Linked DNA regions of Homo sapiens: regions 1 and 2 are each linked to region 3. The links come from fine-mapping of genetic effects on gene expression. A gene starts in region 3. Each other region holds a variant in brackets. All regions are shown on one strand. Distances are between the middles of the regions.

Region 1 (8,000 bases), 210 kb before region 3:
GTGAGCCACCGTGCCAGGCCCTATGTGACCATTTGAGGTTGACTTTTTCTTCACTCATTGCCTGGCGATCCTTCCAAGTTGTCGAGTATATTAATAGTTTGTTCTGTTTTATTGCTGAGTAGTGTTCCATCATATGGATGTACTACAGTTTAATTGTTTACCCATTGAAGGACATTCGGGTTATTTCCAGTTATTGGCTATTATGAAAATTGCTATGAACATTTGTGTACAGATTTGTATGTGGATATGTGTTGTTTCTTTTTTTTTCTGGTATAAATACCCAGAAGTACAAATGCCTCCTGACCTCCAATCTGTGAATTTAGTTTTATAAGAAACTGCCAGGGTGTGGTGGCTCACACCTGTAATCCCAGCACTTTGGGAGGCCGAGGTAGGCAGATCACTTGAGGCCAGGGGTTCAAGACCAGCCTGGGCAACATGGTGAAACCCCATCTCTACTAAAAATACAAAAATTAGTCAGGCATGATGATGCATGGCTGTAGTCCCAGCTATTTGGAAGGCTGAGGCATGAGAAATCGCTTGAACCCTGGAGGCGGAGGTTGCAGTGTGCCAAGATTGTGCCGCTGTACTCCAGCCTGAGCAACAGAGCAAGGCTCTGTTTCAAAAACAAAACAAAACAAACAAAAAAAAAAACCAAACCTGCCAAATGTTTTCATTCCCACCAGCAGGTGTATGAGTTACTCAGTTTCTCTGCATCTTGGGCAGCATTTGGTATTAACACCTTTTTTTTTTAATCATTCTGATGGGTGTGTAGTGATACCTCATTGTGGTTTTAATTATATTCTTCTCATGACTAATACTGTTGACCATTGTTTTATGTGATTTTTGCCATCCGTATATTATTTTTGGTCTAGTGTCTAAGTCTTTGCCCCTTTTTAGATTGGGTTGTTTTCTTATTGTTGAATTTTGAGAGTTCTGTGTGTGTGTGTGTGTGGGGTGTGTGTGTGTGTGTGTGTGTGTGAAACAAGTCTATCAAATATATGCTTTGCAGAGAGTTTCTCTCAATCTGTGATTTGTTTTTTAATTCTATTAATAGTATCTTTTGTAGAAGTTTTACATTTTGATGAAGTTTGCCTTACCAATTTTTTCTTTCATGGATTGCACTTTTGGTGTTACAGCTAAGAAATCTTTGCCTAACCCATGCTCACAAAGATTTTCTCCTCGGTTTTCTTTTCTTTTCTTTTTTTTGAGACACAGTCTTGCTCGTGTTGCCCAGGATGGAGTGCAGTGGCATGATTATGGCTCGCTGCAGCATCAACCTCCTGGGCTCAAGCTATTCCTCCTGCCTGAGCCTCTGTAATAGCTGGAACCACAGGTGTGCACCACCATGCCCCGCCAATTTTTAAATTTTTCGTAGAGATATGGTTTCACTGCATTGGCCAGGCTTGTCTCAAACTGTAGGGCTCAAGTGATCCTTCCTCCTTGGCCTCCCAAAGTGTTGGGATTACAGGAGTGAGCTACTGTGCCTGGCTGCTAGGTTTTCTTTTGGAAGTTTTATAGTTTTAGGTTTTTTTTTTTGTTTTTTTTTTTGAGACGGAGTCTCGCTCTGTTGCCCAGGCTGGAGTGCAGTGGCGCGATCTCGGCTCACTGCAAGCTCCGCCTCCCGGGTTCACGCCATTCTCTTGTCTCAGCCTCCCAAGTAGCTGGGACTACAGGCGCCTGCCACCACGCCTGGCTAATTTTTTGTATTTTTGATAGAGATGGGGTTTCACCATATTATCCAGGATGGTCTTGATCCCCTGACCTCATGATCCGCCCGCCTCTGCCTCCCAAAGTGCTGGGATTACAGGCATGACCCACCGCACCCGGTCCCAAAGTATCTTTTAGGTGCCTGAGTCTCAGCATTTTTGACACATCAATTCGTCTGTCAATTTTATTTTCTTGGAGACTTTCCTTTCTCTCAGAGCCTTCTAAACTAATCTGGATTAGTGGATACCTAGCATGTTGTACATCTGTCATTGTGAGACCTCACTTCTCTGTCATCTTGAGTTCTTTGCATTTCTGTTATTGTGTTGTCATTTGTTTCTTTGCAACTCATTTTGGTGGAGTACTTCCTTCAGTAGCTTACTGATGGTAATAGGAGGTAAATTTTTGTGACCTTATATATTTAAAGGTCTTCACCAGGCGCAGTGGCTCACGCCTGTAATCCCAGCACTTTGGGAGGCTGAGGCAGGTGAATCACAAGCTTAGGAGTTAGAGACTAGCCTGGCCAACATGGTGAAACCCCGTCTCTACTAAAAATACAAAAAAATTAGCTGGGTGTGGTGGTGCGTGGCTGTAATCCCAGCTACTTGGGAGACTGTGGCAGGAGAATCGCTTGAACCCAGGAGGCAGAGGTTGCAGTGAGCCGAGATTGCACTACTGCACTCCAGCCCTGGTGACAGTGTGAGACTCCATCTCAGGAAAAAAAAAAAAAAAAAAAAAAAAAAAGTCTTCATTCTCCCCTCACACTTAATTTTGGCTGGTTGTAGAATTCTAAGTTAGATATCATTTTCTCTCATAAATTTGAAGGCATTGCTCTCCATTTTCTCCATTTTATTCCATTGTTGTTGAAAAGTCTGATGCCATTCTGATTCTTGATTCTTCATGTGTAACCTGTTACCCTCCTCTGAGTCTTTTAGGTTCTTCTCTTTGTCCTTTGTGTTCTGATTTTTTCAGTTCCATTGTAATCTCAGGAGACCATTTTCACATACGTGGTCTGTCATTGACCAAAACATCATCAAGCAGTACCTGACTACCTACAAATGTAATTGCTTGTCATATGGTAATTCTCTATGTAAATTTTTGAGGCACCATCAAACTCTTTTCTACAGCAACTCAGCTGTATCACTTTACATTGCCACTAGTAATATATGAGGGTTCTTATTTATCTGTATCCACACTAACACTTGTTTTCTCTTTTTGTTTATTTTTTCAAATTAAAGCCATCCTGGGAGTGTGAAATGGTATCTCTCTGTGGTTTTTATTTGCATTACCTAATGACCAGTGATGTTGAACATCTTTTCATGTGCATGTTGGTCATTTGTATATCTTCTTTGGAGAAATGCCTATTCATGTGCTTTGTCCATTTTTTAATTCAGCTGTTTGACTTTTTGCTGTTCAGTTATAAAAACTCTATATATTCTGGATACTAAAGCCTTATCAGATCTAAGATTTACAGATATTTTTTCCCATTCTGTAGGTTGTCTTTTCACTTTTCTTTTTTCTTCTTTTTTTTTTATTTTATTATTATTATTATTATTTTCTTCTGAGACAAGGTCTCACTCTGTTGCCCAGGCTGGAATGCCATGGTGTGTGATGTTGGCTCATGGCAGGCAGCCTTGACCTCCTTGGCTCAAGTTAGCTTCCCACCTCAGCCTTCCAAGTAGCTGGGACTACAGGTGCATGCCACCATGCCCAGCTAAGTTTTGTATTATTTTGTGGAGATGAGATTTCACCACGTTGCCCAGGTTGGTCTCAAATTCCTGGGCTCAAGTCATCTGCCTGCCTCAGCCTCCCAAAGGGTTGGGATTACAGGCATGAGCCACTGGGCTTGGCCTCACTTTCTTGATGGTGCCCTTTGGTGCACAAAAGTTTTTAATTTTACCAAGTTGTATTAATTGAGTTCTTTTGTTGCTTGTGCTTTTACTATTAAGAATCCATCGCCAAATCTGAAGTCTTGACAGTGTACTCCTATTTTTGCTTCTAAGAGTTTTATGCTTTTAGCTCTTATATTTAGGTTGTTGATCCTTTTTGAGTTAATTTTTGTATATGGTATGAGGAAGGGGTTCAACTTCATTCTTTTGCATGTGATAATCCAGTTTTCCCAGTACCATTTGTTGAAGGAACTATTCTTTTTCCATTTAAAGTCTTAGCACCCTTGTAAAAAATCAATTGGCCATAGATATTCGGGTTTATTTCTGAACTCTCATTTCCATTCCATTGATTAATACATCTCTTCTTATGCTAGCACCACACTGTTTTGATTGCTGTGCCTTTGTAGTAAGTTTTGGAGTGTTAATCCTACTTTGTTTTCTTTTTCAGTGTTATTTTGGCTGTTCAGAGAATATTCTGGGCCCCTTGCATTTCCGTATAAATTTGAGGATTGGCTTTTCCATTTCTCTAGAAAAGCCCGTGAAATTTTGGTAGGGATTGCATTGTACATCACTTTGGAGAGTATTGCATGTTAACATTGTTTTTCAATCCATGTACACAAGAAGTCTTACCACTTATTTAG[G/T]TCTTCTTTAATTTATTTCAGCAATGTTTTGTAATTTTTAGTGTGTAAGTTTTTCATGTCCTTGGTTAAATTTATTCCTGAGTATTATTTCTTTTGGAGGTTACTGTAAATAGAATTTTCTTAATTTCCTTTTCAGATTGTTTATTGCTTGTATATAGAAACAACAGAATTTTATGTGTTGATGTTTTACCCTGCACCTTTAATGAATTCATTTATTAGCTGTAGTTTTTTGTAGAACTTATGGGTTTTACTTTATATAGAATCATGTCTTCTGCAAGTAGAAATAGTTTTACTTCTTCCTTTCCAATTTGGATGTCTTTTAATTCCTTGATTGCCCTGGGTAGGACTCCCAGTACAATGTTGAATAGTAGTGGTGAAAGCATGCATCCTTATCTTGCTTCTTATCTTGGGGGAAGGCTTTTGTTTTACACCACTATGATGTTAGCTGTGGGCTTTTCACAAATGGTTTTTTTTTTTTTTTTGAAATGGAGTCTGGCTCTGTCGCCCAGGCTGGAGTGCAGTGGCGCGATCTCTGCTCACTGCAAGCTCCGCCTCCTGGGTTCATCACGCCATTCTCCTGCCTCAGCCTCCCAAGTAGCTGGGATTACAGGTGCCCACCACCACGCTCAGCTAATTTTTTGTATTTTTAGTAGAGACAGGGCTTCACCATGTTAGCCAGGATGGTCTTGATCTCCTGACCTCATGATCCGCCCCTCTTGGCCTCCCAAAATGCTGGGATTACAGGCGTGAGCCACCGCACCTGGCCTCACAAATGCTCTTGATCATGTTAAGGAAGTTTACTTCTATTCCTAGTTTGCTGAGGTTTTTGTTTGTTTGTTTCAGTCTTAAAAAGATGTTGAATTCTGTCAAATGCTTTTTCTGTCAGTTGAGGTGACTGTGTGGGTTTTTTTTTTTTTTTTTGAGATGGAGTCTCACTTTGTCACCCAGGCTGGAGTACACTGGTATGATCTTGGCTTACTGCAGTCTTCACCTCCCAGGGTCAAATGATTCTCCTGCCTCAGCCTCCCAAGTAGGTGGGATTACAGGCGCCTGCCACCATGCCTGGCTAAGTTTTGTATTTTTAGTAGAGACAGGGTTTCACAATGTTTGCCAGGCTGGTCTCGAACTCCTGACCTCAAGTGATCCACGTGCCTCAGCCTCCCAAAGTACAGGCATGAACCAGTACACCCGGCCCCTGATTGTGTGGATTTTTTTTCTTCACTCTATTAATATGGTATATTATATCAGTTGATTTTCACATGTTGAACCACCCTTGCATTCCTGGGATAAATCACATTTGGTCTTTTTTAATGTGCTCTTGGATTCAGTTTGCTAGTGTATATTTTGTTGAGGATTTTTGTGTTTATATTCATACGGGATATTGGTCTGTAGTGTCTTGCTTTGGTATCAGGAAAATACTGGCCTCATAGAATGTGTTAGGAAGCATTCCCTCTATTTTTTGGAAGAATGTGAGAAGTAGTGCTGTTAATTCTTGTCTAAGTGTTCATTAGAACTGACCAGTGAAGCCATCTGTTCCTGGGAGAATTTTGACTATGATTCAATCTCTTTACTTGTTAGAGGTCTGAGATTTTCTTTTTCTTCTGAGTCAGTTTTGGTAATCTCTGTATATCTAGGAGTTTGCTCATTCCTTCTAGATTGTCTAATTTGTTGGTGTACGATTGTTCATAGTATTCTTCTTCTTTTTTTTTGAGACAGAGTCTCACTCTGTTGCTCAGACTAGAGTGCAGTGGAGCAATCTTGGCTCACTGCAGCCTCCGCTTCCTGGGTTCAGGCGATTCTCCTGCCTCAGCCTCCCTAGTAGCTGGGATTACCACCACGCCAGGCTAACTTTTGTATATTTTAGTATAAATGGGGTTTCACCATGTTGGCCAGGCTGGTCTTGAACTCTTGACCTCAAGTGATCCACCTGCTTCGGCCTCCCAGAGTGCTGGGATTATAGGTGTGAGCCGCCGCACCCGATCCTGTTCATAGTATTCTTATTATCATAGTATTCTTACATATATTTTTGCAAACACCAGTTGTAATACATTCTAACAAAATCCACTTACGTTGTGCTAAAGTAGTGTTTTCTTTTTTCTTTTCTTTTTCTTTTTTTTTTTTCGAGATGGAGTTTCACTCTAGTTGCCCAGGTTAGAGTGCAATGGTGTGATCTTGGCTCACTGCACCTCCACCTCCTGGGCTCAAGTGATTCACCTGCCTCAGCCTCCCGACTAGCTGAGAATACAGGTGTGCACCATCACGCCTGGCTAATTTTTGTATGTTTAGTAGAGACGGGGTTTCTCCCTGTTGTCCAGGCTGGTCTCAAACTCCTGACCTTGTGATCTGCCCGCCTCGGCCTCCCAAAGTGCAGGGATTACAGGCATGAGCCACCACACCCAGCCTCTTTTTTGTATTTTTAGTAGAGATGGGGTTTCACCATGTTGGCTGGGCTGGTCTTGAACTTCTGACCTCAGGTGATCTGTCCACCTCAGCCTCCCAAAGAGCTGGGATTACAGACGTGAGCCACCGTACCCGGACGCCTTTTTTTTTTGTTGTTTTTTTTTTAATTTAATTTAATTTTAAGTTCTTGGATACATGTGCAGGATATGGAAGTTTGTTACATAGCAAAATGTGTGCCATGGTAGTTTGCCACACCTGTCAAGCCATTACCTAAGTGTTAAGCCCAGCATGCATTAGGTATTTTTCCTGATGCTCTCCCTCTCTCGTGACCCCCACCCCCAGACAGGCCCCAGTGTGTGTTGTTCCCCTCCCTGTGTCCATGTGTTCTCATTGTTCACCTACTGTTTATAAGTGAGAACATGTGGTGTTTGGTTTTCTGTTCCTGCATTAGTTTGCTGAGGATAATGGCTTCCAGCTCCATCCATGATCTCATTCTTTTTATGGCTGCACAGTATTCCATGGTGTATGTGTACTACATTTTCTTTATCTTGTCTGTCATTGGTGGGCATTTGGGTTGATTCTATGTCTTTGCTATTGTGAATAGTGCTGCAGTAAACATACACATGCATGTATCTTTATAATAGAATGATTTATATTCCTTTGGGTATATACCCAGTAATGGGATTGCTAGGTAAAATGATATTTTTGGTTCTAGGTCTTTGGGAGAATAATTGCTACACTGTCTTCCACAATGTTTGAACTAATTTACATCCCTACCAAGAGTATAAAAGCCTTTCTATCTCAGCCTCGCCAACATCTGTTGTTTCTTGACTTTTTAATGACTGCCATTCTGGGCCGGGTGTGGTGGCTTACGCCTGTAATCCCAGCACTTTGAGGGGCCGGGGCGGGCGGATCAGTTGAGGTCAGGAGTTCAAGACCAGCCTGGCCAACATGATGAAACGTCATCTCTACTAAAAATAATAAAATTAGCTGGGCATTGTGGTGCATGCCTGTAGTCCCAGCTACTTGGGAGGCTGAGACAGGAGAATCACTTGAACCCAGGAAACAGAGGTTGCAGTGAGCCGAGATCATGCCACTGCACTCCAGCCTAGGCGACAGAGTGAGACACTGTATCAAAAAAATATAATAATAATAATAATAATAATTTCCTTTCTGACTGGTTTGAGATGGTATCTCATTGTGGTTTTGATTTGCATTTCTCTGATCATCAGTGATGTTGAGCTTTTTTTATGTTTGTTGGGCTGCATAAATGTCTTCTTTTGAGAAATGTCTGTTCATGTCCTTTGCCTACTTTTTAATGGGGTGGTTTATTTTTTTTTTTTTTGTAAATTTATTTAAGTTTCTT
Region 2 (8,000 bases), 110 kb before region 3:
TCTACTAAAAATACAAAAAATTAGCCAGGCATGGTGGTGTGTGACTATAATCCCAGCTACTCGGGAGGCTGAGACAGGAGAATCACTTGAACCCGGGAGGTGGCAGTTGCAGGGAGCTAAGATCGCGCCATTGCACTCCAGCCTGGGCGGCAGAGCAAGACTCCGTCTCGGGAAAAAAAAAAAAAAAAAAAAATATATATATATATATATATATATGTATGTGTATATATATATGTATGTGTATATATATATGTATGTGTGTATATATATATATGTATGTGTATATATATATATAGAGAGAGAGAGAGAGAGAGAGAACTTTGAGGGTAGATATGAAAATCCATGCCTTAGCATCTGTTTTACCACTAATATCTGTTGCTGAATACGAGATCTTTTCTTCCAGAATATATAGTGAGATCACAGTGTCTAGAGAATGGAATTCAAGGCCATTAGTTCCATAAATATTGCTGAATGCTGTCCTTTTGCAAGATGAAGCTAGATGCTGGGAATGCGAAGGATGTATTAAGATAGAATTCTCGGCCAGGCTCAGTGGCTCACACCTATAATCCCAGCACTTTGGAAGGCTGAGGCGGGTAGATCTCTTGAGCCCAGAACTTCAAGACCAGCCTGAGCAACATGGCAGAACCCCATGTCTACAAAACAAAATACAAAAAATTAGCCAGGCATAGTGATGTGGCCCTGTAGTCCTAGCTAGCCAGGAGGCTGAGGTGGGAGGATCACCTGAGCTGGAGAGGTTGAGGCTGCAGTGAGCTGTGATCATGCCATTGCACTCCAGCTTGGGTGACAGAGTGAGACCCTGCCTCAAATTTAAAAAAAAGATCAGCAGAGATATGTAACAGATTTCACAGGAAGGATTCAGCAAGTCTTCTGTGAGTAGGTGACATTTGAGCCAAGTTTTGGAGGATGAGTACAGTTGGCTTTCTGTATGCATGGGTTCCACACCTTGGATTCAACCATCTGTGGATTGAAAATATCTAGGGGGAAGAAAATGGATGGTTGCATCTGTATTGAACGTGTACAAACAGACTTTTTTTTTTCTTGTCTTATTCCCTAAACAATATAATATTACAACTGTTCCCATTAGCATTTACATTGTATTTGGTATTATAAATAATGTAGATATGATTTAAAGGGGGTATGTGGATAGATTATGTGCAAATAGTACACTGTTTTATATAAGGGACTTGCGCATTCATGGATTTTGGTATGGGGGGGTTGTATGGTATGGACATAATCATTTCTCAGTGTACTCAGGGGATTGATTTTAGGACCGCCTGTGTACAACCAAATCATGCATGCTCAAGTTTCACAGTCACCCTGTGGAACCCACATGTAAGAAAAGCAGCTGTGGTCTCAGTGCTTTGGGAGGCCAAGGTAGGAGGATTACTTGAGACTAGGAGTTTGAGACCAGCCTGGGCAACATAATGAGACCTCATTTCTACCAAAAAACCCTACAAAAATTAGCTGGGTGTGGTGGTGTGTGCCTGTAGTCCTAGCTACTAGGAAGACTGAAGTGGGAGGATCGCTTGAGTCCAGGAGTTCTAGGCTGCAGTGAGCTGATCGCATACTATTGCACTCCAGCCTGGGTAGCAGGAAAGTGAGACCCTGTCTCTAAAAAAAATTAAAAAGCCCTCCACATATGCAGATTTCACATTCGAGAATATTCTTTTTTAGATCCATGTTTGGTTGAAAAAAGCTGTGTATAAGTGGACCCAGACAGCTCAAAGCTGTGTTGTTCAAGGGCCACCTGAGTATGTTTTCAGTAAATGAACATCAGAGGCAAGTCAGATAACACAGCAGAAATAGAGAAGAAGGGTATGTTTGTCAGGGAAGGATATGTCTGTGGTGGGGTGAGGTATGGGGTCCGGGGTGGGGGATGGGGGTGATTGGTATGGTACAGGATGGTTTTAAAGCCATGAGGGGACATGCCAGGTCATTTGTGTGTAAACAGAAGGTATATGTGTAAACTAGAGCAACACCTAAAATTGCATAGCATTTTTCTATTTATTATCTAATCTAATCGTTACCATTCCTCAAACTCTGAGGTAGATAGTGACATTTATAGAGTTGGACTTTTGAAAAATCACACAACTAGTAAGCAGCAGAACTGAGACTGGTTCAATCCAGTCTTTTTCTTGTGGCACTACAGCTGCCTCTCAGAAACAGCAGGCCATGGTGGTTAGAACAGAACTCTCTACTAAACGGAATCCCTCAAGGTTTTTCTAATTCCTGGAGAATATTCTCCAGAAATGCATGTGCACAATTTCACTGCGTTAACCCATGTTCACAACTGCATCTGATCTGTTACACTGTTTGGTGTACTTGAGCACTCTGGTATTTAAGCATTTTGCTGCTGTTCTCTGTGCACAGCTGGCATAAGTGTCACTCCCTACTAAATGATGAAACCAAAAGGTAGAGAGCAGGCTGCTACTTTTATGCAAAACAGATTTGAAATAAAGGCTTACGCAAATATTGGCTTTAAAAATGTTGCCTGTTTCTTTTAGCAGTTTTAGACTAACTCTTCACATTGCTTTTTACCCTGAAACAAGGACTGAGACCTTGAGTCACTCATTTGTGATATAACTGAAGATAGGAGATTTATTGAGACTTTAAGAGCACTTCAGCTCATTTTTTTTAACCAATGAAGATATTTTTTCCTTCTAAAAAGAGCCCAAAGCTAGAACCTGCTCTTTCTAATTTACCACAGGTTGAGAGATTTGGGGGTAGAGGGTCGGATAGGCAACAAATCAGATCTCTAGAAAGATTTTGGGAAAATGTATTTCATTATTTGAATATATTAAGATTTGTTGCAAAAACAGAAGATCTGGAAAGGTGAGGTCTGTGAGGGCAACTGTAAAAGCAATTTTATTTTTGCTCCCTTTATTATAGTAGGGCATACAAGCAAGAAAGGAGCCAGGTGCCGTGGCTCATGCCTATAAACTCAGCACTTTGGGAGGCTGAGGTGGGTGGATCACCTAAGGTCAGGAGTTGGAGACCAGTCTGGTCAACATGGTGAAACCCTGTCTCTACTACAAATACAAAAAAAAAAAGCCAGCGTGGTGGTGGGTGCCTGTAATCCCAGCTACTTGGGAGGCTGAGACAAGAGAATTGCTTGAACCTAGGAGGCGGAGGTTGCAGTGAGCTGAGATCGCGCCATTGT[A/G]CTCCAGCTTGGGCGACAAGAACGATACTCTGTCTCAAAAAAGAAGCAAGAAAGAATGTTCCTAGATTGTAGCCCCCCAGAGACTAGCTATCACATTTGCTCATTGCCACCCCTCAGGGGACTTAATAGAAGCTCAGTGCTGCCAAGCAGTAATTACAGAGGGGGAAGAGCAGTACACAATGGTGTGCACCTGTAGTCCTGGCCACTTGGGAATGTGAGATGGAAGGATCACCTGGACTCAGGAGTTCGAGTCCAGTCTTGCCAATATAGTGAGACCCTGTCTCTAAAATTGAAAAAAAAATGGACAGGCTGGGCGCAGTGGCTCATGCCTGTAATCCCAGCACTTTGGGAGGCTGAGGTGGGCGGATCACGAGGTCAGGAGATAGAGATCATCCTGGCTAACACGGTGAAACCCCGTCTCTACTAAAAGTACAAAAAACTAGCCGGGCGTGGTGGTGGTCGCCTGTAGTCCCAGCTACTTGGGAGGCTGAGGCAGGAGAATGGCGTGAACCCAAGAGGCGGAGCTTGCAGTGAGCCGAGATTGGGCCACTACACTCCAGCCTGGGCAACAGTGCAAGACTCCGTCTCAAAAAATAAAATAAAATAAATAAAAGGACAGAAAAAACTGAAACGCACTCTTTTTATTTTTTTGTGATGGTAGTCTCACCCTGTCATCCGGTCTGAAGTGCAGTAGTGCAATCTTGGCTCACTGCAGCCTCGATTTCCTTGGCTAAAGGGATCAATCCTCCCACTTCAGCCTCCTGAGTAGCTGGGACTACAGGCATGTGCCACCACACCTGACCAATTTTTGTTAAAACGCACTTCTGAAAACCTTAGATTATTGGCTGTATAATTTTTGCAAATTGAATTTTTGATGCTTAATTTAAGCTCCAAAATGAATTTATTTTTATTTTTATTTATTGATATGGAGTCTCTATCACCCAGGCTGGAGTGCAGTGGCGCAATCACAGCTCACTGCAACCTCTACCTACCAGGTTCAAGAGGTTCTCCTTCCTCAGCCCCCCGAGTAGCTGGGACTACAGGCGTGTACCACCACGCCCAGCTAATTTTTGTATTTTTTAGTAGAGACGGGGTTTCGCCATGTTGGCCAGGCTGGTCTCGAACTCCTGACCTCAGGTGATCTGCCTGCCTCAGCCTCCCAAAGTGCTGGGATTACAGGCATGAGCCACCATGCCCAGCCTAAAATGAATTTTTGATATTTTTAATTTGACTCATTTATTATGATATTTGGATTTGCCTTTGAAGGTAGAATTTTTAGATGCCTAGAAAAAAAAGTTCTGCAAACTTTTAATGTAAATTCAAATTAGCTGGGCGTGGTGGTGGGAGCTTGTAATCCCAGCTATTCTGGAGGCTGAGGCAGGGAGAATTGCTTGAACCCGGGAGGTGGAGGTTGCAGTGAGCTGAGATCGCACCACTGCGCTCCAGCCTGGGTGACAGAGTGAGAGACTCCATCTCAAAAAAGAAAAAAAAACAACTTTTAATGTAAATCCATAAAATGAAAATTAAAATGGCTGGGCGCAGTGGCTCACTCCTGTATCTCAGCACTTTGGGAGGCCGAGGTGGGCAGATCACCTGAGGTCAGGAGTTCTCCACCAGCCTGACCAACATGGAGAAACCCCGTCTCTACCAAAAATACAAAATTAGCCTGGTGTGGTGGCGCATCCCTGTAATCCCAGCTACTTGGGAGGCTGAGGCAGGAGAGTCGCTTGAACCTGGGAGGCTGAGGTTGCGGTGAGCCGAGATTGCGCCATTGCAATCCAGCCTGGGCAACAAGAGTGAAAGTCCATCTCAAGAAAATAAATAAATAAATAAATAAATAAAAACCCATAGACCTTGAACTCCATAGCACTGGAATATCTCGTTTTTAATTTTTTTTTATTTTTTGTAGAGATGAAATCTTGCTAAACTGCCCAGGCTGGTCTAGAACTCATGGCCTCAAGCAATTCTCCCACCTTGGCCTCTCAAAGTTCTGGGAGCCATCATATCTGGCCAAATGTCCCCTTTCTGGTTAGCTTTATTATATTTTATTTTATTTTACTTTATTTCATTTTATTATTCTTGAAGATGGCATCTCACTCTGTCACCCAGGCTGGAGTGCAGTGCTGTGAACACAGCTCACTGCATCCTCAACTTCCTGGGCTGAAGCATTCCTCCTGCTTCAGCCTGCTGAGTAACTGGGACCACAGGCACATGCCATCATGCCCTGCTAATAGTTAACTTTAAAAGTCATAGAGCCAGGCGTGGTGGTGTGTGCCTGTAATCCCAGTTACTGAGGAAGGCTAAGGCAGGAAGATCACTTGAGCCTAGTTTGAGGCTAGCGTGGACAACATAGCAAGACCCTGTCTCTGAGTATTTTAAGTGAGTCATAGAACATACCAGAAAGGATTGAAAGTGACTAAAATGAACTTTGTAGTTAGCCGAAGCTCAATTTGTTTTAACTTTTTCATATTATGTTAACTGTTAAGTCCAAAGTAATTTCCACTCTACAACCACAGGACACGGTAATTTAAAAAAATTTTTGCTATACTACTTAAAGATACTTATCCTAATAACTTTTGTTAATTCTGTTTTATATTCAAATTTATATATCCTCTTTTAACCAAATCAAAGATCAAAACACATTTTCTTTAATTTTTGAAGTTTTTAAGTAACATGGAATCTCTTAGGCATCATTCATGTATTAGTTGACTGTTACTTTTAGAAATGTGGACATTAACATCAATTTTTTATTATAAATTCAATGACATTTACTGGAGAAGATAGTAATGTAACTCAGCTCAGAATTTCGGGAGTTATAGACTGAGCATGGTGGCTCACGCTTGTAGTCCCACCACTTTGGGAGGCCCAGGCAGGCAGATCACTTGAGCCCAGGAGTTTGAGAATAGCCTGGACAACATGGCAAAACCCTGTCTGGAAAAATTACAAAAGTTACCTGGGCAGGGTAGCACGTGCCTGTAATACCAGCTACTTGGGAGGCTGAAGTGGGAAGATTGCTTGAGCCCAGGAGGTCGAGGCTTCAGTGAGTGGTGATCATGCTACTACACTCCAGCCCAGGTGACAGAATGAGACCCTTGTCTCAAAAATAAAGTAGTTATAGAGCTGGAAAATATTCTAATATAGCTCTCATTTTATGGATAAAACATCTGAATTTTACACAGAGCCTAAGGTGTTCATCCAGGATAAGACACTTGAATTATGGCAGAATAAAGACTAAAACCTGTTTTCTGACTCTAGGAGTTTTTCTAGAATCTGTAATCAAGTTTCTAGTCAGTGTGTTGAGGTTTTAGAACTGGTGTCAAACAAAGAATACATGAAAGAAAATGCCATTTTCTCCATAGAGCCTTGATTGTGAGAGGAACCAGGGTAATCTTAAGATTATAGATTCTGGCCAGGTGCAGTGGTTCATGCCTTGTAATCCCAGCACTTCGTGAGGCCAAGATGGGAGGATCGCTTGAGCCCAGGAGTTCTAGACCAGCCTGGGCAATATACCCTGTCTCTACCAAAAATTTAAAAATTAGCTGAGCATAGCTGGGCGTGTTGGCTCACGCCTGTAATCCCAGCACTATGGGAGGCCAAGGCGGGCAGATCATGAGGTCAGGAGGTCGAGACCATCCTGGCCAACATGGTGAAACCCCGTCTCTACTAAAATACAAAAAAACTAGCCAGACATGGTGGTGCGTGCCTGTAGTCCCAGCTACTCAGGAGTCTGAGGCAGGGGAATCGCTTGAACCCAGGAGGCGGGGATTGCAGTGAGCCAAGATCACGCTGCTGCACTCCAGCCTGGCAACAGAGCGAGACTCCATCTCAAAAAGAAAAAGAAAAAAAATTAGCTGATCATGGTGATGTGTGCCTATAGTCCCAACTACTCAGGAGGCTGAAGTGGGAGGATTGCTTGAACCCAGGAGGCGGAGGTTACAGTGAGCTGAGATTGCGCCACTGCACTGCAGCGTGGGCAACAGACCAAGACCCTGTTTATTTTTTTTTTATTTTTTATTTTTTTTGAGACAGAGTCTCGCTCTGTCGCCCAGGCTGGAGTGCAGTGGCGCGATCTTGGCTCACTGCAAGCTCCGCCTCCCGGGTTCACGCCATTCTCCTGCCTCAGCCTCCTGAGTAGCTGGGACTACAGGCGCCCGCCACCACGCCCGGCTAATTTTTTGTATTTTTTAGTAGAGGCGGGGTTTCACTGTGTTAGCCAGGATGGTCTCGATCTCCTGACCTCATGATCCGCCCACCTCTGCCTCCCAAAGTGCTGGGATTACAGGCGTGAGCCACCGCGCCCGGCCCCAAGACCCTGTTTAAAAAAAAAAAAAAAAGTATTATTCTCAGTATTAGATGAAGTGTTTTTTGGTTTGTTTTGTTTGTTTTTGAGACGGAGTCTCACTCTGTCGCCCAGGCTGGAGTGCAGTGGCGATCTCAGCTCACTGCAAGCTCTGCCTCCCGGGTTCATGCCATTCTCCTGCCTCAGCCTCCTGAGTAGCTGGAACTACAGGCACCCGCCACCATGCCCGGCTAATTTTTTGTATTTTTAGTAGAGACAGGGTCTCACCGTGTTAGCCAGGATGGTCTTGATCTCCTGACCTTGTGATCCGCCTGCCTCAGCCTCCCAAAGTGCTGGGATTACAGGTGTGAGCCACTGCGCCCGGCCTAGATGAAGTTTTAAAGGCTCTCCATTCTCTTTCTCGCTGGAGTTCACACTTTGGTATTCTTAATGATAATTATATTCGTCTGTGTCTCTTCCCTAGCTTCTTTGGAACATCTCAGGGCCTTTTGAGTTCTAACTACTCTTCTTGTTTTATGT
Region 3 (11,157 bases):
AGAAGCTCAAGACCAGCCTGGCCCACATGGCAAAACCCCCGTCTCTACAAAGAAATACAAAAATTAGCTGGGTGTGGTGGTGTGCACCTGTAGTCCCAGGTACTCAGGAGGTTGAGGCTGCAGTGAGCCGTGATCATGCCACTGTACTCTATCCTGGGTGACAGATTAAGACTTATCTCAAAACAATGAAAGAAAAAAAATATGGGAAGACTGGCCTAAGGAGAGGGGAAAGACAGAAGACCTGGCCAGTCTTGACCCCAAGCTCTGAGTCAGACCTGCTTCTATAGGTCTTCTGAGATCCTTTGGTATTATACAATGTTCTCTCTTTGGGGATCAGTAGGTCCACCGTAGCACCCCTATGGCTGAACCTGAAATGAGTCTCTATTTTGTGTGGCCTCCTGTAGAAGCCAACAGGTGTTTCCTGGTGACCTCTACCATTGCCCATCATTTGGCTTGCCATATATTGACATCCTACTTTTAACCACAAATTGGGAATGGGCTCACCTATAGTCTTTCTACTGGAAAGAACAGTTTGAAATGCAATGCCCCAGAATAGAAATGGCCCAGGTAAGATGTGCTCCAGTGCTGACAGGCTGTATTATCCAGGGGCCTGGTAGCATGGGTCAGTTTATTAACCACAGGGACATGCTGCAGATGGCTCCTCTTGATAGGTTCATCACAGGACACTGCACAGCTCCAAGCAGACACCACGCAGGAAAATGGGGAAGATCCCATGGCCAAGGCAGACAAGGGGAGACCAATGCTATAATTTACAGACTAAGGAATTCTTCCTTGCTCCAAAGTCAAAAAGAAGCTAGAGATGCCAGTTTTTCTGCAGAACCTTGAGCAAACTTAAAGTTACCTATGACAAAAGTTCTGGCTCCAACCCCTAAGTCCCTCCACTCAGTCAAATTATGCAGCCATTAAAATATAAGATTGCTGGGCACAGTGGCTCATGCCTGTAATCACAGCACTTTGGGAAGCCAAGGTCGGAGGAATGTTTGAGCCCAGGAGTTTGAGACCAGCCTGGGCAACATGGCAAAACCGTCTCTACAAAAAATACAAAAATTAGCTGGGTGTGGTAGCGCAGGCCTGTGGCTCCAGCTACTTGAGAGGCTGAGGCAGGAGGATCACATGAGCCCAGGTGGAGGCTGCACCGAGCCGTGATCATGCCACTGCACTCCAGCCTGGGCAACAGAGCGAGACGCTGTCTCAAAAAAAGGTACAAGACTAGCAATACAGAAAAATGACAGATACAGAATTTTGTACTCAGAAGGAAATAAACCAGTTCTATTCTACCTACTTTTGGGTTGATGGTAAAATGGGAGATTTTCCTCCTTTGCTATATTTTTTCAAATTTCCCATAATGAGCATAAATTATTTTTTTTCTTTTTTGAGATGGAGTTTCGCTCTTGTCACCCAGGCTTGAGTGCAATGGCGTGATCTCAGCTCACTGCAACCTCTGCCTCCCGGGTTCAAGTGATTCTCCTGCCTCAGCCTCCTGAGTAGCTGGGATTACAGGTACGCACCACCATGCCTGGCCAATTTTTGTATTTTTAGTAGAGACCGGGTTTCACTATGTTGGTCAGGCTGGTCTCAAACTCCTGACCTCATGATCCACCCACCTTGGCCTCCCAAAGTGCTGGCATCACAGGCATGAGCCACCGCGCCCGGCCTATTATTGCTTAAAGAGGCGGTTTTCATTATGTTGCCCAAACTGGCCTTGAACTCCTAGCCTTAGATGATCTTTCTGTTTCAACCTCCTGAGTAGCTGGGACTAAAGGTGTGCACCACTCCTCCTAGCTAGAAGAAAAATAATTATTATTATTTCTGTAGAGATGGAGTCTTGCTATGTTGTTCAGGATGGTCTTGAACTTCAGGCCTCAAGCAATCCTCCTGCCTTAGCCTCCCAAAGTGCTAGGATTATAGGAGTAACCCACCGTACCCTTGCTGAAAATTATTTTGAAGTCTATGTCCATGTGTATTCATTCATTCATTCATTCATTCATTCATTCACTCAGAATCAGGGTCTTGCTCTGTCGCCCAGGCTGGAGGGCAGCAGTATGATCATGGCTCACTGCAGTCTTTAACTCCCGGGCTCAAGTGCTCCTTTCTTGGCCTCCCAAAGTATTGGGATTACAGGTGTGAACTACTGAGCCCAGCCCATATTTTCAGTTTCACTACACACAGCATTTTGTACTGTTAAACATATATATTTTCGCCCACAATCAGTTTTCATGGTTATCAGTTCTAAGGGTCCAGACAGTTGTATGTGTCAACCTCTTGGATATAATTTTTAACCTCCATGTATAGTGTTGCAATGAATGTGCCATTTCCTGCATTTGAAAAGTATCTCACTCATAAGGTTTTTGTGAGGATTAAATGAGTTAAATTAAAAGAAAATATAACAAGTACCTAGCACGCTATTTGACATAATTACTTAGTCAATCAACAGTAGCATTTGTTAATATCATAGCTTAGCTTAGCTGTTTGCTTCTGCTGAATTATCTCCCTAGGATAAATCTTGGAGGTGAGACTACTAGTTAAAAGGAACTGAAGTCCTTTAATTTTTAAATTTCCTATTAAATTTATCTAATAGGAATTTATTTGCTTAAAATGTAAATTGTGTCAATTTAAGGAGAAATTCATTGTAACATAACATAGAAATGCTGTCATTTTTAAATTTCCTTAGAAATTTTTAATTTTAAAATTTTCCTAGATTATGCATGGCTTTAGATCCAAACAATAATAAATTTACATATGTAAAACATGGCTCCCATGCCATCCTGTTTTCCAAAAGGCTTGCATCAATTTTATTCCTACAATTGTGTACGCTTTTAATCATTGCCTTGCCAGCATTGCTATCAACTACTTTTTTCCTGCTAGTCTAGTATGCATAAAACCTCAAGCATGCTTTAAGCTTAAATTCATTTTTCCCCTATAATTACTCTGTGCAAACATTTTTGGTATGTTTAGAGTCGGTATTGCTTTACTGGAAAAATCTCTGTTCATATCGGTCATCAGTTTATCTCCTAGTTTTCTTTATAAAATTAAATTAGCTATTTACTCTTGTTTTTTGAGATGGAGTTTTGCTCTTCTCGCCCAGGCTGGAGTGCAGTGGTGCAATCTTGGCTCACTGCAACCTCTGCCTCCCGCGTTCAGGCGATTCTCCTGCCTCAACCTCCCGAGTAGATGGGATTACAGGCGCCCGCCACCACGCCCGGCTAATTTTTGTATTTTTAGTAGAAATGGGGTTTTGCCATATTGGCCAGGCTGGTCTTGAACTCCTGACCTCAAGTGATCCACCCGCCTCAGCCTCCCAAAGTGCTGGGATTACAGGCATGAGCCACTGTGCCCGGCCTAGTGAACTATTTACTTGATTCAATTCCACGGAGCATTGGTTTACTTTACACATTTTGTAAGTCATGCATTAGTCTGGAATGTTTTGGTGAAAGATGTGGCTATGGACATCATACACAAATTGCTATCCACTTACACTAGCACCAGCTGGACGTGGTGGCTCACGCCTGTAATCCCAGCACTTTGGGAGGCCGATGCGGGTGGATCACCTGAGGTCAGGAGTTCAAGACCAGCCTGGCCAAGGTGGCGAAACCCCGTCTCTACTAAAAATACAAAATTAGCCGGGTGTGGTGGCTCATGCCTGTAATCCCAGCTACTCGCGAGGCTGAGGCATGAGAACTGCTTGAATCCAGGAGGCAGAGGCTGCGGTGAGCCGAGATCGCGCCACTGCACTACAGCCTGGGCGACAAGGGCGAGACTCCATCTCAAACAAAACAAAAACAACAATAAACAATTACACTAGTACCATTTGCTTGTTGCTTGTGGATTCATTTTGAATTATAATTGTTTTAAGTTGCAAAAATAATTAAAATGAGTTCTATAAAAATGTTTATCAAGAGAGGGCATATTGGCTAGGCGCAGCGGCTCATGCCTGTAATCCCAGCACTTTGGGAGGTTGAGGCGGGCGGATCACTGAGGCCAGGAGTTCAAAACCAGACTGGCCAACATAGCGAAACCCCGTCTCTACTAAAAATACAAAAATTAGCTGGGTGTGGTGGCTCACGCTTGTAATCCCAGCTATTTGGGAGGCTGAGGTAGGAGAATTGCTTGAACCCGGGAGTTGGAGGTTGCAGTGAGCCAGCATCATGCCAATGCACTCTAGCCTGGGCAACAGAGTGAGACTCTGACTCAAAAAAAAAAAAAAAAAGAGAGGGCACACTTTATGTTGAGAATTTTCTGGTTTTTTTTTTAGAGACAGTATCTTGCTCTGTTGCTCAAACCAGAGGGCAGTGACTTGATCACAGCTCACTGCAATCTCTAATTCCTGAGTTTAAGTGATCCTCCTGCCCCAGCCTCCCCAGTAGCTAGGACTACAAGCGCGTGCCACAATGCCCAGCTAATTTCCTCTTCCTTTTTGTAGTGACAAGGTCTTGCTTTGTTGCCCAGGCTGGCCTCAAGCGACCCTCCTGCCTCAGCCTCCCAAAGCGCTGGGATTACAGGGAGTATTTTATTTTTTTTTGAGACAGGGTCTCACTCTGTCACCTAGGCTGAAATGCCACTGCCGCACAATCATGGCTCACTGTAGCCTTGACCTCCCCAGGCTCAAGTGATCCTCCCGCCTGGGCCTCCCTACGTGCTAGGATTAGGCGTCAGCTACTGTGCCCAGCCTCAAGGAGAATTTTCCATTTCTGTAGTTTTGCTGCATGTAGTAGACTTTTTTTGGAAGTGATTGCAAATGAAGTTAGCAAATGTAATATAAAGAAAAGCACTGGATTAAATGTGAGAAAACTTGCATTCTAGACCTAAATCTACCTCAAACTTGATATGCTATCCAGGACTATTCCTTTAACCTCTCTTTGATCAATTTTCCTACCTGCTCTATCTCTATTTTGCTCCAGTGATCCCCATCTCAGTCAGGGTGAAAGGCAATGTCCTTGCAAGTACCTAGCAGGCATCCTCCCCTCAAATTCCTTACTGCTCTCCTCTAGCTCACCGGGCTCCAGGCACCTTGCAAGGAGCAAAGAAACGGCTTAAGGGCCTCTTTACTTTCAGGTTCTCTGCCTAGAAGTCCTCTCGATATGTGGAATACCCTGCCATTCACCTTCTGCAAGTCTTCACTCAAATGTCATTTCCTCAGTGACACTCTCACTGAAGTGGCACCACTCTTCCTGCTTTGTCTCCCCGCCTCCTTACATCCCTTATCATCATCTGACACTGAATAGACTTGTTTACTGTTTCTGTCTACCTGCATGTTAGGTCCTCACTGCTGTATCCACAGAATCTAAAAAAATACCTGGCATATCGTAGGCACGTAGTAAACACATGTTGGATGAACAACCAAATCTGTAAAATGAGGCCGTCACGCCGGATGGATCATCCATCCCCTTAAGATGAAACTGTGCTGCGACTGGGCCCAGTCTTCTTGCATTACCATCCTGAGAAGCCCAGCGACCACCTTCAGGGGCATACTCACTTTGCAGGAGCCTGCAGAGGCGGCTTCAGGTTCTCCCTCCTCGTGGACAAGGTCTAACAACTGAAAGCCCGAGTTCCCGGCGGCTTCTGGGTTCCCCGGCGTGTACTCGGACTCCTGGCCGCTCGAGGTGGTCCCCAAGGATCGGCGGCTGGAAAGCACCCGGTAGCGGCCCTCCTGCCGGACCTCCCGAGCCGAGGCGCGGAGATTACGGCGGACACGCTGCTGGCTGTCCCGTGACGGGCGCAGAACTTCCCGCAGGAGAGGCTGGACTGGTTCCTCCTAGGGGGCAACAGGGGACGGAGGCCAGCGTAAGCAGGAGTTCGCGAGCGGGTCAGGGATCGGGTTTCGTACCGGCTGCACCCGAAGATGCCCTCCACACCAGCTGCACCACGCCCAATACCTGGGAGCACACAGTGGCCACCAAGTGGAAGACATTATTCTCCGCCGCTCTCTCCAAACCCTCCGACGTCTTCTGTGCCGCTGACTCGACCGCGTCGCTCCGGAGGCGTTTACAAGCGAGCACAAGAGCCTCCGCCGGCTCCGCACTGCGCTTCCGCTTCACCCGGAGTACAGCGGTCCTGGCGGCCTCCATAGTGGCTGCCGCTGAGCACTGTGGGAGCTCGCGGGGTGTGATGGGATAGCTTTCCAGTTCTGCTTTAGGACCCGCCCCCCAGCACGCTCCTCGACGCTGCGAGGTCCCGCCCCGCGTGCTGGCCGCGGTAAAAGTGGTAGCAGCGGAGGCGAGCGGAGGGTTTCCCGCGGCGGGTGAGGCGCTGGGTATGCTGGGAAGGTGGGGTCGCTTTGGGGTTCTGTGTGCAGCGAGCATGGTGTCCTTGGCACCAGGGTTTCGGCAGAGGAGCCTAGCGTGGGCCTACTTGGACTCCTCCGCGTGGGGCAGCTCGGGACACCCGGGCCTGCAGGAGAGCGGGGTTCTAGGCTGGCCCCGGCTCTGCAGTGCAGCCGGGTGCCTGCCACTCGCGGGGCTCTGTCGCAGTACTCGTGCCTGGCGCCTCCCCTCAGCCACAGAGACCGCAGTAGCTCCAACCATCGCACCCCTAACTGGGCCACGAGTTCTCTGATTGCCAGACCTGTTGTCTTTGCCACTCACTGTTCTGAGTAATTGGAGAGTCGTGTATTCACTACACGCCAACCAGAGTGGTCCTGTAAAAGCGTAAGCCTAGTGTAGATACGCTTCTGCTTAAAACTCTTGAGTGGCTCCCAGTGCTTTTAGAACAAAATCCAAACGCCTTTCCGAAGTCGACAAGGCCCAGCTTGATTGAGCAGAAGATGTGATAGGAGATGAGGAGCGGGGGGCTTCTGCAAAAGTGCTTCGGTCGCTCAGGCTTTTGGCACATTTTGCTTATGCAACCTAGTTCTTTCTACCTTAGGGCCTTTTCTTGGGAAAGTTGGGGTAAGGATTCCTGACCTGTAAAAACTCTTCCCCAACTTTTATCCCGGTCTGTCTTGTAGATCTCAAATGCTAGTTTCCTCAGAGTCCTTCTGTAACCTTGGTTTTCTCTTTCTACAACGCTCTGTGTATTTCTTGCATTCATGTAGTCTGTAATTTGTATTACTCTCTCATTAGAGTCTAAGCTCTTGGAGGGCAAGGGTCTTCTCTAGCTTGTGGTGGTGGCTCCAGTCCCTAATATAGTGCCTGGCACATAGAAGGTATTTAATAAATTTTGTTATTTTATTTTTTCGAGACAGAGTCTCACTCTGCTGCCTAGGCTGAGTGCAGTGGTGTGATCGAGGCGCACTGCAGCCTTGACCTCCTGGGCTCAAGCGATCCTCACCTCGGCCTACCGAGTAGCTGGGACTACAGGCACGCGCCACTACACTCGGGTAATTTTTAATTTTAATATATGTATATTTATATATATATATATATATATATATTTTTTTTTTTAAGACAGGGTCTCACTCTGTCACCCAGGCTGGAGTTCAGTGGCGCCATCTCTGCTCACTGCAACCTCTGCCTCCCGGGCTCAAGTGATTCCCCTACCTCAGCCTCCCGAGTAGCTGGGAGTAACTGGGACTACAGGCACAGGCCACCGCGCCCGGCTAATTTTTTTAAAAATTTTTTGTAGAGAACGGGGTCTCACTATGTTGCGCAGGCTGGTCTGGAACTCCCAGACTCGATATCCTTGCGTCTCGGCCCCTCACAGTGCTGGGATCACAGGTGTGAGCCACCACCGCCTAGCAAATACATTTTGAATGAATGTAGTGGACCATCTGCTCTGCAGTCTGACGGCTAATACAATTAGGGCTTGGCATGGTGGTTTCTATTTCCTCCTTGTAAATGGCCATGCAAGTTTACAACTCTTGGAGAATGAGGAGGGGTTCAGAGAATATCTCCTGAATCTGTAGTGTAGACTGCTTCTGGGAGAGAACAAATAATAATGGATGAGGGCATTCAGCCAGAGAAGGTGTGTAGTGCCCACCAGAAGAGGTTCATGCCTTCATAAAATTGTTAACACAAGACATAGTTCCAGGTTTGTTTGTTTGTTTGAGATACAGTCTTGCTCTGTTGCCCAGGCTGGAGTGCAGTGGCGCGATCTTGGCTCACTGCAACCTCTGCCTCCCAGGTTCAAGCAATTCTCCTGCCTCAGCCTCCCAAGTAGCAGGGATTACAGGCACCTGCCACCATGCTGGCTAATTTTTTGTATTTTTAGTAGAGACGGGGTTTCGCCATGTTGGCCAGGCTGGTCTCGAACTCCTGACCTCAGGTGATCCACCTGCTTTGGTCTCCCAAAGTGCTGGGATTATAGGCGTGAGTCACCGTGCCTGGGCTGTTCCAGGTTTTGAAAAGACACTGTGGTCCTGGTTTTAGACTCAGCAACATCACAGACAAGAAAGGAATCCTATGGATTAAAGTTCTTCACTATAAGTTTTTTTTTTCCTCCAGTTCAAATGGGTAACGTGCCAATGTAGTAAAGGTTTGAGGGAGGCACGTCTGACACAGGCACATGAACACCCAGTCATCACGCTTATGAACTACAAAACGATGACTCTTAACCTTGAAGTGACTTCAGAATTGATTCCACATGGACCACAGGATTAGTATTTCAGGACTCTACCATATGGATCCTATTGATATGTTTGACACCTGGTCCAGTTTTACTTCACTAAACTGATTGATATAATGTGCATGATTGTCTAAGCCTTTCTAATTGGATGAAATGCCTTCTCCGTCCACAACCCCCTCCTTCTCCTCCTGCCTCAGCTGAATCCACCTTTTAAGCCTTCCTTGAACATTCAGTCAGATATGGCCATTTCTTTCTCTACTCCAACATTTGTTGGACACAGTTTTCTAATGCACATTACAGATTCTGACAGTTCTAGATATTCTGTCTGTAAAATAAATGTTAGTACATGAGATAAAGTGGATTATAGCAATGTTGTTAAACTGCTGGTTGCAACCCATTGATGGGTCCTGACCAGCAAGTAAAAGTGCAGCTGGGTGCCGTGGTGCATGCCGGTAGTCTAGCTACTTGGGAGGCTGACGTAGGAGGATCGCTTGAGTCCAGGAGTTTAAGGCTGTAGAGTGTAATGATCATGCCTGTGAATAGCCACTGTGATCCAACCTGGACAGCAGGGAGATCCCATCTCTTAAAAACAATAAAAATGAAATAGAGCATATCAGAGGGCCTTGTTCGTAGGAAGTCAGTATTGTTTTGTGGAACATTTAGTTGTATGCGTACATGCAGGTATGTGTATTGAGTCTCATTTTAAAGTATATTTCTTACTGGGGTTATCAGAAAGTTTGAAAATCATTAGACTAGGGGATAGGTATGCTGAGATTTTAGTAGTAGAGTTTTACCTGGACAAATTGTCTACTTTGAACCTGACTGCCGGCCTGAGTTTGTTCAGGGAAGATTGTTTCTAATCTATTTGCTTTTTGTTTGTTTGTTTTGGTGACGGAGTCTTACTCTGTTGCCCAGGCTGGAGTGCAGTGGTGCGGTCTCAGCTCACTGCAACCTCCGCCTCCTGGATTCAAGTGATTCTCCTGCCTCAGCCTCCTGAGTAGCTGGGAATACAGACGTGCGCCACCATGTCTGGCTAATTTTTGTATTTTTAGTAGAGACGAGGGTTTCGCCATGTTGGCAAGGCTGGTCTTGAACTCCTGACCTCAGGTGATCCGCCTGCCTTGGCCTCCCAAAGTGCTGGGATTACAGGTGTGAGCCACCGTGCCCAGCCTGTTTCTCATCTATTTGTGTAAGAATTCCATGTTTACTTACTCTAGATAACTTCAAAAGAAAAAAAACTCTGGCCAATAAAATGCCATAGGAATGTTTAGGGATATGTGGAGTAGGCATTCTTTCTAAGTTTTCCTGAAGATGCACCAATGTTTAACAAGAAAGGAAGGGCAGTGTAGAACACCTATTGCTTTCTGCATGGTAAGAGGGATGGGTATTGGGAGAGCCCACACCTGCTGAGGAGTGCCTTTAGACTTTGAGCGGTGGTGTTTCTCTCCCTCCCAGAAATAGATCTCTTTGGGGAGACAGGCCATACAAGACGTGAATCTGGTGACATTTTACTTGTTTGAAGCAAAATTTTTTTAGATGATGGAGGGTTTTTAAAAATTGCTTTTAAAATTAAAATTTGAATAGATAAGAAGTAATCACTATAAAAAATAATGAAGCATAAGGAATGCTAGTATTAGCTGGGTGTGGGGCACTCACTTGTAGTCCCAACTACTGGAGAGGCTGAGGCAGGAAGAATGCTTGAGCCCAGGAGTTTGAGTCCAGCCTGGGCAACATAACGAGACCCCATCTTTTAAAAAAAAAAAAAAAGAAAAAGAATGCTAATATCGTGAACATTTATGTTCCCACCACCCAATTTAAGAAAAAGAACAATACTTTTGAAGTCCACTGCGTACCCCTCCTTGATCCCATCTCTTTCCCTTCTCTTTTAGGAGTTAACTATCCTGATTCCTTGCTATGCTTTTTAGTGTGATCCCTGAAGAACGTATCACTCCATTTTGCATAGCTATAAATTTCATAGAAATGGAATCGTATTGCATGTGTTGTGTGATTTGCTGTTTTTGCTCATCATTATATTCCTGGGATTATCCATTTTTAGGTTTATGTGTGACTGTAATTTATTGTTTAGATGAAAGTTTTCCTGGTTTGACTTGCTCTATCTTCATATTTTTCCTTAAGCTAAGGGTTCAGCATACGAAGGCAGTATTGGTGGCACTTCTTTAACAGTACCCCATCTCTTCTCCTAGCCTTGAGGGCTGCACCTAGATGAACTTGTGAGGCTCATTTGAACCTTTTGGAAGCACCGAAGCCTGCTGAAGTTTCCAGACATCTGTATGAATCTGTTGTAGTTTTTTAATGTTATATGCTGAATATAAAACCAAGTAACTCCTGCTGGAAACATTTACAATATCGATTAACAAATACTATCAGTGGCTTTGACATTTTTGTCAGTTTCTTGATTTTTTTCCCCGCTTTTGTCTCCCCTTCCCCCCTCCACATTTTGGGGCATTGTGCTGTTAATAGATTTTTTTTCTGTTCGTTTGTTTATATACCTCCTGTTTCCTTCTGATGTTAATAGATTTCTGACAGTCAGACTTGTCCACAAGAACTCAACTGGCAAGGCTGCTTTTCTGTGCTAAAACTGGGGAGCTAGTGGGCACCATGAAGATCTTCTGCAGT

Alleles and levels. Positions count from the first base shown, and alleles are read on the strand shown. Sizes are in standard deviations (SD) of each study's normalised expression.
As copies of G replace T in region 1, the expression in monocytes after interferon gamma of the gene that starts at base 6,106 in region 3 goes up (large effect, 1.3 SD a copy in Fairfax 2014).
For the expression in NK cells of the gene that starts at base 6,106 in region 3, allele G in region 2 goes with a lower level than allele A (moderate effect, 0.70 SD a copy in Gilchrist 2021).

What was found. PIP is the estimated chance that this variant, and not a neighbour inherited with it, causes the effect.
Region 1: its variant is the best candidate, but not a certain one, in a credible set for the expression of SLC7A6OS in monocytes after interferon gamma (Fairfax 2014, PIP 0.51).
Region 2: its variant is the best candidate, but not a certain one, in a credible set for the expression of SLC7A6OS in NK cells (Gilchrist 2021, PIP 0.54).

The regions. Positions count from the first base shown.
Region 1 is chr16:68,099,954-68,107,953 of GRCh38, forward strand. The region is part of intron 1 of NFATC3 (nuclear factor of activated T cells 3); the gene reads left to right. Among named protein-coding and RNA genes, the nearest start is that of NFATC3, 19 kb to the left of the region's middle. The variant G/T (reference allele first, on the strand shown) is at 4,235.
Region 2 is chr16:68,192,039-68,200,038 of GRCh38, forward strand. The region is part of intron 9 of NFATC3 (nuclear factor of activated T cells 3); the gene reads left to right. Among named protein-coding and RNA genes, the nearest start is that of MIR6773, 37 kb to the right of the region's middle. The variant A/G (reference allele first, on the strand shown) is at 3,182.
Region 3 is chr16:68,304,841-68,315,997 of GRCh38, forward strand. It overlaps SLC7A6OS (solute carrier family 7 member 6 opposite strand), which reads right to left and starts at 6,106. Exons shown (of 5, transcript NM_032178.3): 1 at 5,895-6,106; 2 at 5,495-5,773. The coding sequence starts at 6,086. PRMT7 (protein arginine methyltransferase 7) reads left to right here and starts at 6,179. Exons shown (of 19, transcript NM_019023.5): 1 at 6,179-6,259; 2 at 7,202-7,336; 3 at 11,057-11,157. The coding sequence starts at 11,140. It overlaps LOC124903789 (small nucleolar RNA U13), which reads right to left and starts at 8,500; the gene lies at 8,399-8,500. RefSeq lists an enhancer at 5,111-6,075.